Linked DNA regions of Homo sapiens: region 1 is linked to region 2. The links come from fine-mapping of genetic effects on gene expression. A gene starts in region 2. The other region holds a variant in brackets. All regions are shown on one strand. Distances are from middle to middle. Region 1 overlaps STIM1 (stromal interaction molecule 1). Region 2 holds the start of STIM1 (stromal interaction molecule 1).

Evidence for each region. PIP is the estimated chance that this variant, and not a neighbour inherited with it, causes the effect.
Region 1: its variant is fine-mapped to the expression of STIM1 in whole blood (TOPMed, PIP 0.98).

What each region holds. Positions count from the first base shown.
Region 1 is chr11:3,979,575-3,982,074 of GRCh38, reverse strand. All of the region lies in intron 2 of STIM1 (stromal interaction molecule 1), which reads right to left. Among named protein-coding and RNA genes, the nearest start is that of PPIAP40, 87 kb to the right of the region's middle. The variant G/C (reference allele first, on the strand shown) is at 993.
Region 2 is chr11:3,854,180-3,856,679 of GRCh38, reverse strand. It overlaps STIM1 (stromal interaction molecule 1), which reads right to left and starts at 1,016. Exons shown (of 13, transcript NM_001382567.1): 1 at 271-1,016. The coding sequence starts at 409. It overlaps STIM1-AS1 (STIM1 antisense RNA 1), which reads left to right and starts at 1,102. Exons shown (of 2, transcript NR_183662.1): 1 at 1,102-1,323; 2 at 2,022-2,357. It overlaps MIR4687 (microRNA 4687), which reads right to left and starts at 618; the gene lies at 539-618. RefSeq lists enhancers at 101-150, 161-240, 391-600, 816-1,761, 1,971-2,040 and silencers at 821-980, 1,041-1,100, 1,581-1,630.

The sequences.
Region 1 (2,500 bases), 130 kb before region 2:
AGGCTGGGTGACAGAGCAAGACTCTATTTCAAAACAAAAAAGAAAGAAAAGAAAAGAAAAAAGAAACAAAAAGAAAAGAAAGAGACAGAGAGAGAGAGAAACTTTCCAAAGTCAAACAACTAATAATTGGCAAAAGTATACCTGAAACTATCTTTCTTGCTTTATAAGTACATACTTTTGCTCTACTACATAGCCTTTGGGCATTCTCAGTGTTTTCCTTTTTTTCTTCACTTGTGCTCCTATAGTATGTGTTATTCTTAAAGTCTTTCCTATCATTTTAAGTACAGTAATCTTACCTCCATCCAGATTCTGCACATGATTCATAACATAGGGCAGAAGGGTAGGGAAGAAGGTCACAGAGGAGGTCAGACGTATAGGTCATATACTAACATATCTAGAGCCCAGACTATAGCAACTCCAGAAAAACAACCCAACACTGACTTCAGCTTTTATCCTGACAGGGAACTCACAAGTCCAAAGCACTCTGTCCCCAGTACCATTGACCAGCCCACTCTGTACTCCTCCTTTGCACTAGAGAAACTATTTAAAGGGCATAAAACAATAAGATAGTATCTTTGTTTTCGAATTCAAAATTCAAAAATAACGTCAACTCAGCACCCTTAAGAGAAAGGTCCTGAACCAAACACAATGTTATGAGAAACAGCAATGAATAAAACCTAGTTCATGACCCCTAAAGGAACTCAAAATCTGGTAGGACAGTTAAGGATGGACCCAATTACAATACAGAACAGAGCAACATGACAAACATAAGGTTCATGCCAAGTACTCTCGAACATGAGAAAGGATTACTTCCCACTGTAGGAGAACAAACAAGATTTCTCGGATTGGCTGGGCGTGGTGGCTCACGCCTATAATCCCAGCGCTTTGGGAGCCCGAGGCAGATGGATCACAAGGTCAGGAGTTCAAGACCAGCTTGGCCAACATGATGAAAGAGAGCCTGAGGCAGAAGAATCATCGGAACCTGGGAGGCA[G/C]AGGTTGCAGTGAGCCGAGATCACACCACTGCACTCCAGCCTGGGCGACAGAACAAGACTCCGTCTCCAAAAAATATATATATATTTCTTGGATGAAGCAACATTTAATCTAGGCCAGTAGTTCTCAACAAGGGGCAGTTTGAAAATTGACAACTGACAATAGTAACTGGCAATATTTTTGGTTGTCAAACTGGAAGGGGGAAGGGGAAAGGTTTGCTACTGGCATCCAGTATGTAGAGGCTAGGAATGCTACTAAACATCCTACAATGTACAAGACAGCTCCCCACAACAAAGAACTATCTGGCCCAAAATATCAATAATGCTGAGGTTCCGAAACCCTGATCTAGGCCTTGGTGGACAAATGAAATTTCTTTTTCCTTTTGTTTCTATTTGTTTTTTTTTGTTGTTGTTGTTGTTGTTGTTTTGTTCCAGGCATTGCACTGAAATGTGTGGGTTTTTTTTTTTTTTTTTTAAAGAGATGGGGTCTTGTTATGTTGCCCAGCCTGGTCTAGAACTCCTGGCCTCAAGCGATCCTCCTGTCTCAACCAAGTAGCTGAGATTATAGGCATGAACCACCAAACCTGGCTTGATTTTTACAGGCAAAGTGGGAAGCAGAGAAATGCCAGGATAAGGATTTATCTGGAACAGGGGCACAGTGATAAGATATGAAGAGCATGTCTGGGGTGGCTATAGCATAGAGTAAGGAAATACAGTATAACATGAACTAGCAGCATGAGCTAAAGCCAAATGGTGGGAGCATTGAATGACAGAGCAGAGTTTAGATTAATTAAACAAGCAAAAGTAAGCCACTCATTTATAGTTTTATCATCTCTAAAATGGAGTTAATAACACCTAGTTCACAGAGTGGTTAAGGATTAAACAAAACTTTATATGTAATCAGCTTGGCTTGGCACATGGTAGAAGTAATCTGATGAGTTGTGCTTTAATAATGCCAGTATTAGTGCAGGAACACAAAGTTATAGACAAAACAATACAATCAAAATCATTAGGGCACAAAGCAAGGCAATTTCTAATTAAGTGCTAAATCGAGCGATAGAGACTATGTACTATGGGAGTTAGTATTGAGATGAGGAAGATCAGTAGGAATGGGAAAGTCAGGGAAGGTTCATATAAAATGAAGCTGGCACATTCTAGAGGACAACTAAGATTGATACAGACAGGGCTAGGGGTGCAGGGAGGGGCACAAGAGGTTAATTCCAGGTAAGGAGAACTACCTGAGCAAAGAAAGGGGACTGGAAATAAACATAAAATGTTTATAAGACAAAGAAGATTGGAGCCAGACCGAAGCGGTAGGAGGTATGTCCAGAGAATTAACAAAGGTAGCCAAGGTGCAGTGGCTCTCACCTGTAATCCCCGGCAACTTGGGAGGCTGAGGTGAGGGGTTGCTTGAGACCAGGAGTTCAATACCAGACTTGGCAACATAGCAAGACCCTGTCTCTACAAAAATAGTTAGCCTAGTGTGGTGGTGCACACCTGTAGTCCTACCT
Region 2 (2,500 bases):
AAAGGTCAAGTTGCCCCAAAGGCTTCTTCTTACTGCCAACAAAAAAAATCCTGAGTGCGGGGGATGAGGAAAGTTGTTCAGGAAAGATACAGGCATTTGCCATGACTACTGACCAGAAAGAACTTCTTGAACTACTTGGAACAGGCAGTGCCATGTGTGAATCCTCCATGAACCTCACATGTACAAACCTAGATTTCAACTTGCCCACTTCGGGCCACTCAGTCCTGAGCCAAAGCCTCCAGCCCAGTCCAGCCCGCAGCAAGGCCTTACCTGCTGCAGTGGACTCCTCAGAGTTGGCCCCCGAGCTGGTTCCTGTCGCCTTCTCACTGTGACTATGGCTGAGGCTCTGGCCCTGGTGCAGGAGGAGTCCCCAGAGGAGCCACAGGGCAAGACGGACGCATACATCCATGACTCTAGGTCTCAGTCAACATGCGTCTGATGTGGACACCTCGGGATCCCAGAGGCAAAGCCAGGAGCCCGGGAGTGCAGCCGACGGTCTCCAGGCAAGATGCCCTCGCGGCTCCGCAGCTGTCCAGCCACCCGCGAGCCTGCCCCCTCCAACAGCCAAAGGTCAAGTGCTCCAAGTTTGGGTGCGGGAGGAGGGCTGGCTCCTCAGGTCCAACAGTGGGTCCGCCGGGGCTGCGGCGGCCTGAGCTCGTGCCGCTTCCGGAGACTTCGGGCAGGGTGGCTGCGGGGCTGCTGTCAGCTCCGCAGATTACTACACCCCTGCGGAAGGGGGCGGCCGGAGTCTCCGCGGGCACAGAAGTGGAGGAGGAAGAGAAGAGAAGAGAAGAGAGGCGAGAAGGGGGCACCTGACCTCGCCCTGCCGAAGAGCGGCGAGCAGCAGAAGCTGGGGAGGGCGTGCGACCCGCAGGGTCCTGAGGGCGCGGGCGTCTCCGGGATCCTGGGCCTCCTAGGCCGAGGTCAGCGCCCCCGCCCAGTCCCGTGCCCAGGCGGCTGGCGGTGCCCAGGTCCAGCAGGCGGACGCACACCGGCCAGGCCCAGGACAGCGGCTTCCAGGCGGGCGGGCGGCGCGGGGCGGGCCCGGGGCGGGCGGGGGCGTGCGTCTCCGCGCCCGCCCCGCGCCGCCCGGTCCCCAGCGAAGCCCGGGCCAGCCCCAGCGCCCAGCTGGATCCCGGAATAACCGGTGAAGACGGCTCCCCGGAATCCCCGCCCCTAGCGGGCTCTCCCGGACCCCCGGCCCGCGCTAGTCTTTGCCAGGATCCCGCGCAAAGGATCAAGTCCCAGCTTCCCTTTCCCCACCGAGAGTCTCCAGCGCCAACCGCGGGCCGTCGGGCGGGTCCCTGACCCGCAGTTACTCAGGTAACTCAGGCCTGCGGCGGCGGCGACAGCAGCTGCCCTGCCCCGATCTCCGGGCCTTGGTGCTGCTCCACTCGCCTCAGTTCTAGAGCTGTCTAAACAGAGGCCCAGGACACGACGTTAGCCTCCCAGGAGCTGCCTGAGGCGACAACAGCCTGACCCGGCTCGGCCCGGGGGCGAGCTCCCAGCCCCCAACTCCCGGCCAGTTCCCAGGCTCCGCCCTCGCGCCTCGCCTGACAACCAATCGGCTTCCGCCTCTCTGCGGCTTGGGAACCCGCGCGCTTCGTCGCCCATGCGCAGCGGCCCCTGGTGGGAAAATCAGCAAACTGCAGACAGGACTCGGCGCTCCTGGGAGGGCCTGCTCTTTTGCAGAGGGTTGCCGAGTGAAGCTAAGACCCGCCCCGGGGGAGGCCCACGAGGGCCACTGGGGCCTGCGAGTGTTTTCTGAGGAAATGATGATGCCAGAAAGCAAAATGAAATGTCCAAACCACTCTAGCTAAAATTCCCCTACACATTCCTTGAGTCTGGGCTAAAGGGTGCCATCTGCTTTCCCGACCCCGCCTCCCTTCCCCTCCAAGCTAAGTGGGATGCCCTCCCTTAGCTCTCACAGCCCTTTTTCCTACCTGCCCTCAAGCTCTCAGCCCTTTAAGGTTTTTCGGTGGGGCCTGTAAATGCTTCCTCCCTGCATCTCATTCTCCCAGCTACCTCTCTGGTGGAGGAGGTGTCAGCGACTTGAGAATGAGTGCGCCAAAGAAGACAGAGCCACGCCTGAGCCTCCTTCAACAAAGCCTGCACTTCCTGTTCTCTTCTCAAGCGTGCTGTCAGCAGATCTTGACTGAAACCTCTGTGCCCTACCCTGTCCTTGGCACCAGACGCAGGGGAAAGGATCAGGCCCAGTCCCTCCTCTGACTGACAGTGCTAAACCAGCTACCTGTTCTGAGCAAGGCCCCTGAAGACTGGGAACACGAATTTGCCCAACAGCTGCCTGGCTTAAGGGTTAGGCCGTTGATATAAAAATACATGGCTAATGTAACCTACTACCACTCTCCCGGCTCTGTTAAGCTCCTGTCACACTAGCCTTCGTTAAGTTCCTAACCACGTCAAACTCAGCCACCTCACAGCCTTTGTATCTGCTGTTGCTTCTGCATGAAACACTCTCGCCTGCTCCCAGTTCCTCATG